Homo sapiens: one gene and its partner. The protein of the gene in region 1 binds, or shares a complex with, the protein of each later gene. Each region holds a gene or a part of one and is shown on either strand. Other genes may lie near its edges. The genes, in order: RAB21 and RABGEF1. A codon is read from its position in the direction of its gene.

Region 1 (6,999 bases):
ACTTTCCATAATACCAGTTCATTTCACCTCCAAGATGTTAAAAAAAAAAAGGGGGACAATCACTTGACTAAACATTAGAAGACCAAAATAGTGATCCATACATAACTGTCTTAAATTCCTGTCAATCCTGCAATTCTTTGAAATGTATGAGAATGTACTTTATAAAATACAAAGTAGTTTACATAGACAGGTACTCTGTTGACGAGAAAAAAGGTGAACTCTTCCTCTCATATCTTCTGACATGATTTCCTCTCCATTTGGAAATTAAAAGAATACAAAGTTGTGTCTTACAAGTCACATAAATCAAATTCCTCTGAAAAATTGTTAAGAAAGATGAGGTTAACTGGTATCTCTGAAAGAGATTAGACACATTGCTGTTTACATACATTGGTGTACAACAAAATCCTAAATTCTATAATATAATTCAGATATTAATACTGGATATCTACTATAACTTCATCCTCCCCTCTGTGGAGTACAGTGGCTTTTCATATATTTAAAAACCTTTACTCTGCTTTCAGTTTCAAGAATGTTTTAGAAATTTAAAATGGAAGTGTAATTTTTAAGTTGAAAGGGTATGGCCAGGTGCAGTGGCTCACCCCTGTAATCCCAGCACTTTGGGAGGCCAAGGTGGGCAAATCACCTGAGGTCAGGAGTTCGAGACCTGTCTGGACAACATGGTGAAACCCCGTTTCTACTAAAAATACAAAAAAATTAGCCAGATGTGGTGGCGTGTGCCTGTAATCCCAGCTACTTGAGAGGTTGACGCAGGAGAATCACTTGACCCAGGAGGTGGAGGTTGCAGTGAGTGGAAATTGCTGCACTTCAGCCTGGGCGACAGGGCAAGACTCAAGTTATCTTTTGAAAAAAAACGTGGAGACCTCAATTACAATAGTTTTCTTTTATCTTAGATCTTTGCATAAAGGAAAACACTAGATGGGTTATTTATCAATATACCGAGGTAATGTGATTTAATTGCTCAAAATCTGAAGTCAGACAGGGGTTCAAATTTGAGCTTGGACACTCCTGCCCCATTGACTTGTGGTAATATTACTGCCAGCAAAATTACTCAACTAAACGTTTTTCCTCAGCTGTAGGGCTATCCACTAAACTATCCACTTCATAGGGTGTTATAAGAATTAAAGCAAGCAGACAGAAAGCAAGCAAAATAATCAGCACAGTAAGAACTCACTAAATGTTAGCTATTGTTACTACTTTACCTAAGTAAATCTCTAAACTTCCAAATGATCCTAGGTATTTGTCCAGTGAATTTTCTTGATCTAAAACACCAGGCTCTCACTAATGACACTGAACAATAACAATTCATTATTAAAATTTTGTCAGTGTTCTGGTACAAGGATTTTTTAAAAATGCAGTTTCCTGGCACTCACTTTTTCAGATATGCTTTACATACGAGTAAAATCAGAGGAGTAAAAATAGAACATGGAATCAGAGCCAGAGCGTCTTGTAAATTCTAGACTCAGTAGTTTAATAATAGCATCAAACATCCAATGTCACAACAATTAGGAGATTACGCATTCTATTAAGTAGTGTCGATGTTCTCACATACTACACATTTACTAATTAAGACCTATTGTGCAAGTTGGGGCGGTAATTAAAGGCAGACAACTTACACTGGACCAGGTCATCAGTGCTTTTTCTGTATATTTATCCTGACAACCCTATGAGCTAGATACTACTATTATGGCCATTTTAACAGAAGAAACAGGCACAGACAGGTTAAGTAACTTACCCAGTATGACACAGCTAGTTAAATGGATGGAGGTGAGACATGAACCTGGACAATCAGGCTCAAAAGTCCACTAGACTTTACTGCCTTTGACCAAATTGGTAAGTCAAATTAGTAGGATAAATTTCTCCTAATAACATCAAAACTGATTTCTCTGGGAGAGGTGGGGTGAGTACAACTCCCTCAAAGGCCTGGCTTCACTCTCAATCAATGATAACATTTTAACACCTTTCCAATGTACCTGTGGAAGAAAGCCGACCTTTTATTTTACAGGTAAAGAAACTGAGTAACAGCAGCGGCTTTTAGTCTGGGGACCAATTGTTGGCCAGTATTCACTTGATGTTTCAGCGTGGGTCAATCGACCTCGCAGAATATGAGTGACCCGCAAGTCAGACCCACGCAGGCTGCAATGAAACTGCGTAACACGCCTAGGCAAGCGGTCATTTCAAAAAACCTCCAGAGATGGCTCTTTTGCCATTCCTGTTACTCAGGACAAAATGGAACTTGCATAAACACTTAGTCATCAGTAAGCGCTGAAGTTACAAATCACCTAATTCGCAAAATCAAATACGCAGCTAAGTTCCTAATTCTGAAAGAAAGAAAAGGAGCTAACATTTGGAGACTGCAACACTGACACCTGGGACCCAGGAACTGCAGTAAATGGGAAAAAACAGCCCACGGACGGAGACCACAACGTGCGCAGCCACCACGGGGAACACTGGGGACTTTTCAGGGCCCTTCCACTTCCCTCCCAACAGCCTGTCCTCGCGTCTACAGGCTGCCCCGACCTGGTGATTCCCCAGGGCGAATTCGGAAAGGTAAACCGAAGGCGGAGATGACAGGCCTGAGATTTGCCAGCCTACATCCAGGGGACCAGGGCGGCAAAGTTTCCCCAGCCCCGGAGGGGTAGGGGCCCTGAGGCGCCCCCTCCCGCTCCCCGAGGTCCGCACCTGCAGAGTGGTGATGTGCTTGTCGTTAAACTTGTTCTCGCAGTAGCGCAGCACCAGCGACGTCTTCCCCACGCAGCCTTCCCCCAGCAGCACCACCTTGAACGAGTAGGCTCGGCCCGCCGCCGCCGCCCCGCCGCCGCCGCCGCCGGCCGCAGCCATCCCGTCGCTTCCCGGCCGCCCGAGCCCGAGTGTCGCGCCGCCCTCCCGACAGCCGCGGCAGCGCCTTCACAGCCACGGCCGGCTCAGCCCCCACCGCCCCGGCCCCGCCGACCCGGGCGCTGTCCCCACGCCCTCCTCGGGCGAGGCCTGGAAGGGCTGAGGGAAAGTCCGAGAATGAAGGGCCCCAGCCCACCACGTCAGGCACCGGAGGAAAAGCGAAGAACGATCCCTCTCTGCCTCCCTCTAATGGCGTCTCCTTCCTCCTACGTCACACCTCGGGTCACGTGAGCGCCGGTGCCGGGGCGGCCCCTGCGACTAGCCCCAGAAGAACGTGCCTGGACGTGGGCGGGGCTTCTGGGGCATCTCCCGGGGTGGAGCTGGATGTGAGTCGAGCGCCTACTGGCAATCTAGGGCAGAGCCCCGCCGCTTGCGAGCCACCTCTGCTTTTCAGTTGGTGGGAGCCAGCGGGAATAAGGAACCAGGAATTTGAGGCGAGCCCAGCTCTGGTGAAATGAAGGGCAGAACTTCATCGTTTTTGCATGTTCACAATGCTAATGATCTGTCACACCAGAGGTCACTGTAAACCATATCTGCCAAGGTGCCCTTGAATCTCTCTCTGTGGGATCCCGAATCATAGCGCTTCCAAGTTCCTCTGACCGCCTGGTCAACTACTCCATCATCTTTCAAGTCTCAGCTTAAACCGCGTCCCTGACCACCCAATCCTTCCCCCATCCTTCCATTCCCCCACCTCACAAAATTAGGTATTTCTTACCACCAGTATACCTCCTTTACTAGGGCTTTACACACTCCATGGATATTATTAATACTTTGCTAAGTGTTTATCGACTCTCATTAGACTATAGGTTTGTTGAGGGCAAGGTCTGTATAAGAGCTGCCCACCTTTGAATTCCTAACCCCAAGTGCTCTTCAGTTTTTCTGACTTTCATGAAGCCTCTGACGTTCCATGGTACTCCACCTTGAGGTGGCTTGTTCGATGATTGCTTGTTTTTTCTCATCTGCATCCCCATTCTTTTTTGTTTGTTTGTATTGTTAGTTTTGAGATGGAGTATCGCTCTGTCGCCCAGACTGGAGTGCAGTGGCGTGATCTCAGCTCACTGCAGTCTCTGCCTCCTGGTTCAAGTGATTCTCCTGCCTCAGCCTCCCGAGAAGCTGGGACCATAGGCGCCCACCACCGCGCCCCGCTACTTTTTGTATTTTTAGTGGAGACAGGGTTTCACCATGTTGGCCAGGCTGGTCTTGAACTCTGACCTCAAGTGATCCACCTGCCTCGGCCTCCCAAAGTGCTGGGATTATAGGTGTGAGCCACCACGCCCGGCCTGCCTCCAAGAAACCATACTCCTCCAAGAAATCATACTAATATTTCTGAAAATTTACTGGAAACCTGGTGTCAGGTAAACATTTTTTTAAAAATCAAACTTCTTTCACACTTCAAACCAGGTTAAAAAAAAAAAAAGAGGCCGGGCGTGGTGGCTCATGCCTGTAATCCCAGCACTTTGGGAGGCCGAGGCGGGCGGATCACAAGGTCAGGAGATCGAGACCATCCTGGCCAACATGGTGAAACCCCATCTCTACTAAAATACAAAAAATTAGCTGGGCATGGTGGCACAAGCCTATAATCCCAGCTACTCGGGAGACTGAGGCAGGGGAAGCGCTTGAACCCGGGAGGCAGAGGTGGCAGTGAGCCGAGATCGCGCCACTGCACTCTAGCCTGGCGACAGAGGAAGACTCCGTCTCAAAAAAAAAAAAAAAAAAAAAGAGAGTCGGTTAATTCATTCAACAAATATTTAAATGTGCCCACCATATGCCAGGCACTGTGATCAACAAGATAAAATGTCTCTGTCCTCACAGAGCTTACATTTTATCAGGGAAGACAGACATACTCAATTGTACAATAAATGCTTTCATCTTGATGAAACAGTTCAGAGTATCTTGCAAGCATATATGAGAACCCAACTGATTTAGCATGCTAGAGAAGCTTTCCCTGGAGAAAGTTATCTTTGGGTAAGAGTAACCTAGTCAGGAAGGACAGGAGAGCTCTGCAAACAGAGATAACAGCATGTTCAATGGCTTTAGATAGGAAGGAGCATCTAAAGTTGAGCAACTGTAAATGTGACTAGAATTTAGGGAGGAAAAAAAAACTCCAGAAGAGACCATGAGGAAGTTGGGGATCAATACTGAAAGGGTCTTTAAGCAAATGAAGGATTTTCGTAAGATGACTGACATAATCAGATTTGACCACTCTGGCTATCATTTGAAAAGTGAATTGGAGAAGGATAATATTTTAGATTTGTTTAGAACCAACCATTAAAGAGACTCTATGTTTTATAAAATATCCTCATGATTGTATCTAAAGATATATTTTCCAACTCTCTCCTCCACATTCCTCCCCTTAGGGTCTTTGCACATTTATAGACACTTCCAGAACTAGAAAAGAACTTCATTTTGAGAGAGCACCTTCCATTGTTCTTTCTGAGCACTTCCTCATATTGGATTGAAATCTGCCTCTCTTCACCTGCAATTAATTATTTCTGTTTATATTTATACATTATATATCGAATCCCTATTCCCTATAAACATATGAAGAAGGCTGTGTGTTCTTCCTTTAAGCCTTCTCCTTTCTTCTTTTTGATACAGCCAATCCTTTCAACAACTTTTCAAATTGTGTGCATTTGATTATTTAACAGCTTGGTCATCTTAGAAACTAAATGCATTACTTTGCATTTATCACTAAATCAAAGCAATTAAAAATTTTTTTATTGTAAAACAAAATAATTTTTTTGTGAGACAGGATCTCACTCTGCTGCCCAGGCTGGAGTACAGTGCCACAATCACAGCTCACTGCAACCTCAACCTCCTGGGCTCCAGCAATCCTCCCACCTCAGCCTCCCGAGTAGCTGGGACTGCAGGTGTGTGCCACCACACCTGGTTAATTTTTTAATTTTTTTTGTAGAGACGATATCTTGCGTGTCTTGCTGTGTTGCCCAGGCTGGTCTTGAACTCCTGGGCTCAAGCAATCCTCCAGCCTCAGCTTCCCAAAGTGCTGGGATTACAGGTATAAGCCACCACACTCAGCCAAAATAATTTTCGAAGTTAAAATAAGTTTTTACATTTAGCTTACGTTGACATTTAAGAAGGTAGTGCAAGTTTTCATGGGTTACAATAAGTAGGTTGGCATACTTTTGAGCACAGAGTGGGTAAATATAGATGTAAATTGTAATAGGCTGATAACGGCCCCTAAAGATATCAGCTCCTAGATTCCGGAGCCTGTAGATGTTACCTTATTTGGGAAACAGGTCTTTTTGATTTAAGTTAAGGATCTTGAGATGGGGAGATTATCTGGGTGGGCCCTAACTGCAATCACAAGTATCCTTATAAGAGAGAGGCAGAAAGAGATGCTTCACACCCAGAAGAGGAGAAGGCAGTGTGACCATAGAGGCAGATTATGGAGCAATGTAGCCATAAGCCAAGGAATGCTTACAGCCACCAGAGCTGGAAAAGACAAGAAGCCCCTAGAGCCTCTGGAGGGGGTTCAGCCCTGCAGATATGCTGATTTTAGCCTAGTGAAACTAATTTTGATTCCTGACCTCCAGAACTAAAAGAGAATAAATGTGTGTTGTATTAAGCTACCAAGTTTGTGATCATTTGTTACAGCAGCCATAAGAAACGTACTTAAGTATGTTGTGAGAAAACAAGTAGCCCATAACAGTCAAAGCATTGAAAGAGATTCAGGCCAATTCTGGGATAGATTCTACGCCCTTAAGAATTTAGGTCAGTCTTAGAGTCAACTATGATTGGTCTGTATAAACTTAACACGGACTGCCACAAAAAAAAAAAAACACTAGAGCTCCAGTTCCTCCGTAGAGAAGAGCTGCAAAAATATGGGGACACTTCAGTGAGTGCATAACTCAAAACATATTCCTGAATGGTGAGGACTGAGGCATGATAGGGTGCAAATTCATGTAGCTCCTCTTCCCCCAGTAAAAAACAGGAATAATTATACAGGTGAAATCAAGTTAACAATGAACATGCAGCACAATATCAAATGGGGAAAAATTGTTGCACAGAGGTAAAATGCAGCTTTAATTCTGTAGGCGGGAAAGAACAACCTCACCCATTTTG
Region 2 (5,404 bases), on another chromosome or scaffold:
ATGGTGGTTTAATCTGTAGTACTGAAAAAAGTTTAAGTGGCCCATATAGAATGAGATTAGAAGTACTCATATATCCTTTTTTTTTTTTTTTTTTTTTGAGATGGAGTCTCCCTCTGTCATCCAGGCTGGAATGCAGTGGTGTGATCTCAGCTCACTGCAACCTCCGTCTCCTGGGTTCAAGTGATTCTCATGCCTTAGCCTCCCAAGTAGCTGGGATTACAGATGTGTGTCACCATGCCCGGCTAATGTTTGTATTTTTAGTAAAGACGGGGTTTCACCTTGTTGGCCAGGCTGGTCTCGAACTCCTGACCTCAAGCAATCCACCCACCTCAGTTTCCCACAGTGTTGGGATTACAGGCATGAGCCACCGCACCTGGCCTCATATTTCTTAATATAAATGAAACATACACTTGCCTACGAGGGAAGAGCGTTTTGGATTCAGTTCTTTATCCAAAGCGAGTCAGACAACCTGGAAGTCCCTGAGAAGTGTGAAGGTGGAGACATGGCAGGTATTGAGAGAAGTGGAGGAGGACCAGGACGTGTTTGAGCGTAGCCACGGTCACTGACAGTAGAGGTGGCTGGCTTGCACACACTTAGCAGCTTCTAGTGCCCTTGGCCTGCAGCCTTAAGTACATTTGTGCCTTCTCTCTTTGTCCTCTTCTTGCCTGACTCAGAGTCTGTCTCCTACACCCATTGCTCCAATGAAACTGCTCTGGCAAAAGTAAAAAGTTTCCAGCTGACGAACCCCACGGGCACTCACAGTCTTCATCTTCCTTCGCTTCTCATAGCACTCTCCAAGAGTCCTTTGTTCTGCAACTTCTGTTGTTCCTTGGCTTCCACAATTCCACTACTTCCTTGTCTCTTTGTAAAGTCTGTGTCTTCTACTTCCACCTTGAATTGTGTCATTCCATGGGACTCCATTGTCTCTGCATCTCTCTTCCTGCACCATCTTCTCTGTCACAGAGCTGTCACTCACTGTGCAGTGATGGCCTGCAGCTCTGGGTCACCTGTCTTGACCTTACACTTGTATTGCACCTCAAATATAATTTGTTCAGAGCTACTTCCCCTTCAGATGTTTGTTTCTTTTCCAGTATTCTCTATTCCTTTTAGTGGCAATGCCATGTCTCCATTCACCTAAGTGAGGAGTTAGAATCACCTCCTCTTTCCAGGTCACAGAGGGGCCACAGCAACTCCACACACACCATGAGCCAGATGGTGTTCCGTTCTACTCAGATGAATCAGATTTTTCTTTTTCTTTATTCCTTTTTTCTAGAGATGGTTTCTACCCCGACTGTTTCCCAGGCTGGTCTGAACTCCTGGTCTCAAGCAATCCTCCCACCTCGGCCTCCCAAAGTGCTAGGATTACAAGCACGAGCCAACACGCCTGGCTCAGATGTCTGTTGAATTGGGCATTTGCAGTGCCATGTCTGTACTAATAATTGCTACCGTGTATTCATTGCTCGCTGCAGGCCTCTCGGAAGCACGTGACATGTTATGTTGTTTAATTCTCACAATAAATCTAGGTGGTATTTCCCCCCATTTACAGGTACAGAAACCTCAGAGAGCTTAAGTAACTTTCCCACGGTCACTCACTGTTGTTGTTAAGTGAAAGAGGTGACAGTGAACTCAGGTTCAGTCACTTCAGAGTTGTTCCTTTTTTTTTTTTTTCCTGAGACAGTCTTGCTCTGTCACCCAGGCTGGAGTGCAGTGGCGTGATCTTGGCTCACTGCAACCTCCGCCTCCCAGGTTCAAGCAATTCTCCTGCCTCAGTCTCCCAGGTAGCGGGGATTACAGGCGCCCACAACTGCGCCCAGCTAATTTTTGTATTTTTAGTAGAGATGGGGTTTCACCATGTTGGCCAGGCTGGTCTCAAACTCCTGACCTCATGATCCACACGTCCCAGCCTCCCAAAGTGCTGGGATTACAGGCTTGAGGCACCGGGCCCGGTCTGGAGCTGTTCTTTTAACCACTTGATGTTAAAATATTCATTTGAGGATCAGAGGTCTGTGTGCCACACCTACTTGGGGACTATATCCTGGGTGGGGATAGCAGGTCTGGGAAGACTCAGACAGAATGGCTTCATGGTGCACCTGGGGAGGCTGCACCCAGACATCGGCCCTGGAGCTCCTGGGAGTGTATAGGAAGCACGACCGGGGATAGGAGTAGGTAATTTTTGAGGCTGAAATACACAGAAGTTCATGAGTTTGTTTTGTTTACTTTAGCTTCTGTTTTAAATGGTCTGTGATCAAAAGATTTTTACAAATCGACTCGAGTATGCATAGCTTTCCTAATATGACTGTATTAACGTCCTCTTCTTGTAGTGCTGTGCTGTGGCTTTCATTGAGAAGCTAGACGCCCAGTCTTTGAATCTAAGTCAGGAGGATTTTGATCGCTACATGTCTGGCCAGACCTCTCCCAGGAAGCAAGAAGCTGAGAGTTGGTCTCCTGATGCTTGCTTAGGCGTCAAGCAAATGTATAAGAACTTGGATCTCTTGTCTCAGTTGAATGAACGACAAGAAAGGATCATGAATGAAGCCAAGAAACTGGAAAAAGACCTCATAGATTGGACAGATGGAATTGCAAGAGAAGTTCAAGACATCGTTGAGAAATACCCACTGGAAATTAAGCCTCCGAATCAACCGTTAGCAGCTATTGACTCTGAAAACGTTGAAAATGATAAACTTCCTCCACCACTGCAACCTCAAGTTTATGCAGGATGATCACAATTTAGTGGAGAGTATTTATTTGAGCCTAAATTGTAGGTAGCCCTTACTACACTCAACTGATTGGGATCTAGAATGTAACTAAATTGCTTATAAATGTCAGCATTTTTTAAAGGTACAGTATATGGGGATTGTTTCGTTTTTCCTAGCAGGGGAACCTTAGTTAATAATAAAATACTACTTATTTGAGTTACTGATACAGATTCATTTAAGGCTTGTGTGCAAATTTTGTCTCAATCTTTTTTCCCTCCATGATTTTCCTATGTGCTTCCTCTGGCATTCACTGTGGTTTTGGTAAATAATTGCCTTTTAAAGGATTAAACAAATGAATGCTACAAAGTGTATGTTCAAGAAAATTAAATGGTACCACTCTTCCACAGTTTGGAATAATTTTATAATTGTAAAGATAGAAATTATATTGATAAGTAAATATGTAAAATTGTAAATATGTAAAAAAAAGAATGGTGTCTGCTGTGCATGGCATTTTATATGTTAATTTTTTAGTTTAAAATGAAGTATATTGAATGTTTGCCTTTAGCACCATTTTATTTGGTTTGTCCCACTAAAATGACTCGAGAAGTGTTTAGACAAACTCCCCTTAAGATGTGCACTCCATCTTTAAGAACGTGTTAGCCTTAACTTTGAGGTTCTATATAGTCAGAGACTATGACACCACTAAGGTTCAGAATAAAGTTTAGGCCACATAAAATTGCTGTTTAATGTAGTCGATGGAAGACTTTAAACTATGCTTCTAGCTTATTTTTCCCTCATTCATTCAGCAAATCTCTATTGAGTTCTTCAGTGAGAAGGAGCAGGCACTGGGCCTGGAATGGAAGGCGGGAATGAATGGGCCTCTGATGGTGAGAGGTGACGGGGTCCCTCAGCTGTGAGATGCAAGGGGCGCCTTGCAGCCTCCATAATATACATTTGACTTTGCAAACGTCTAGACATGTTTTCTGAACCTTTTTCAGGACATTTCAACCTCGGGACTATTCATATTAGTGGCCTGAGAGGTGTTTGTTGTGGGGCCACCCTGTGCATGGTAGAATGTTCAGCAGCATTCCTGCCATCCATATCCATTAGGTGCCAGTAGCACCCCCGCTAGAGCTGTGAAAAATTCTCTCCAGACATAGTCAGATGTCTCCTGGGGCCATATCACCCCTCCGTTAAGAACCACTGATGTCTTTTACAAACCAGGAGTTATCCTCCTGGTGGTTAATATGGTGTAACCAAAGAATCTTGCACTCAATGCACAGTGTGATGTTAACTAAAACGAGTTAAATATTTAGGAGGCTTGACAGCTACCTGCATTGTAGAACCTTTTCTTATCTCAGTGGAACCTTCTATAACCTAAATATACCATTGATGATTCTTCTTCCATTCAGTGACATCCACAGATTATGCAGCTATACTTGTGAAATCGTGCATGAGGCCCCAGGGCACCGTTCTAGAACAACGTCACTTCACACAGGCAGCTGAGAAAGGTTCTCTTGCTTTTCCAGTATCTTCCTAAGGATGGAGCCCAAAATTGCAGAGCAGTAACTTTGGAATAAAACCAGGGTGGGTATAAAACTTCTTATTCTTAAATTTACATATAAGATCTATTAAGCTTGACACATCTGTGTCATCACGCACTGAAGACAGGAAGCAGTTCACTGAGTCAGCTGGTTCCCAAGCTCGCACAGAAGGTGATAAGTTACTATCAAATGCCAGTGAGAATCTTCTTATAGAATAACCTGGGCCCAAGTGATTTTAGTACAAAACTTGCCCTTCTTTGGTTTAATTTTCTATGTGCTTTTAGGTGTGAATCCAGATATGCGGTCTTAATTCCTTTGGAAATACACAGTTCGTTTAGTTACTGTACACTCTGTTTGTTCAATAAACTGCATATCAACTTCCCACAAAAGCTGACTTTTTTGGGTCTCTTACATATAAAGTAGGTTATTGAGTTGATTTTTTTGGAGGTATCTCATATTGGTCGAATTCTTCTGGTATGGACTCTTGCCTTATATAGAGGCTTCTATTTCTCTTAAGTCAGCATCAATACAACGGCCGGAGTTTCTGTTTTTGCAATAAGAAGATGTTGGTATTTTATGTAGGGTAAATGTGACTGGAATACACCTTTGGAACGGAATTCTTTATCAATAAAGTTTCACAATCCGTCCCTCTTCCAAAAATTGATTTGGTTCTTTCTTAGGAAAATATACATTATTATTAATATTCTCATGCTACAGAGGTTTTCTGGTTAAGCTATACCTAAAAATGAAACATTAGAGACATTTGTCAGTTAAAATTAAGAAGACAAGAATATTTGCTGTCACCACAATCAATCAACCTTGTTCTTGCAGTTCTACCAAGGTACTCAGTCTTCAAACAGACATAAAAGTAGAGAAAAAAGGAGTTAATGTAATCAATATAGAGCTATTATTGTCTGTTGGTGAGGACATGAACTCTGAAGCTGGAAGGCTTGGATTTGGTTTTGAATTTTATTCTGCTACTTATTAGCTCATTGGCCCTGAACAAATCTCTTGTTTCAGATCCCTCAGCTGTGAAATGGGGTTAATAATATTACTGCTTCATGGGGTTGTTGTCTGAACTTAGAACAAATGATAGCTATTATTTGTAGATGGTTATTTTATGTAGAAAACCCAAGAGAAGGCTGGGTGTTGTGGCTCACGCCT

Evidence for each region.
Region 2: the proteins of RAB21 (region 1) and RABGEF1 are in contact, whole or in part, in a crystal structure (PDB 2OT3), measured with the Homo sapiens proteins. Residues at the interface, in NP_055814.1 of Homo sapiens: Ser19 (codon at 2,805), Phe20 (codon at 2,802), Lys21 (codon at 2,799), Gly26 (codon at 2,784), Glu27 (codon at 2,781), Gly28 (codon at 2,778), Lys32 (codon at 2,766), Thr33 (codon at 2,763), Leu37 (codon at 2,751), Thr50 (codon at 2,712), Thr51 (codon at 2,709), Leu52 (codon at 2,706), Gln53 (codon at 2,703), Ala54, Ser55, Phe56, Ala71, Trp73, Asp74, Thr75, Ala76, Gly77, Gln78, Arg80, Phe81, Leu84, Ile87, Tyr88, Asp91; in NP_001273991.1 of Homo sapiens: Leu253, Cys254, Lys296, Phe299, Asn300, Lys303, Pro309, Ala310, Ser311, Ala312, Asp313, Phe315, Leu316, Pro317, Ile320, Leu347, Met348, Thr349, Gly350, Glu351, Gly353, Tyr354, Tyr355, Thr357, Asn358, Cys360, Cys361, Ala364, Phe365, Ser373.

The regions. Positions count from the first base shown.
Region 1 is NC_000012.12:71,750,990-71,757,988, reverse strand, and holds the start of RAB21 (ras-related protein Rab-21), read right to left. Parts: upstream 3,127-6,999; 5' UTR 2,860-3,126; coding exon 2,701-2,859; intron 1-2,700. UniProt on the Homo sapiens protein: The small GTPases Rab are key regulators of intracellular membrane trafficking, from the formation of transport vesicles to their fusion with membranes.
Region 2 is NC_000007.14:66,806,565-66,811,968, forward strand, and holds the end of RABGEF1 (rab5 GDP/GTP exchange factor), read left to right. Parts: intron 1-1,273; coding exon of another isoform or gene 1,274-1,312; exon of another isoform or gene 1,313-2,321; coding exon 2,322-2,720; 3' UTR 2,721-4,900; downstream 4,901-5,404. UniProt on the Homo sapiens protein: Rab effector protein acting as linker between gamma-adaptin, RAB4A or RAB5A. Involved in endocytic membrane fusion and membrane trafficking of recycling endosomes. Stimulates nucleotide exchange on RAB5A. Can act as a ubiquitin ligase.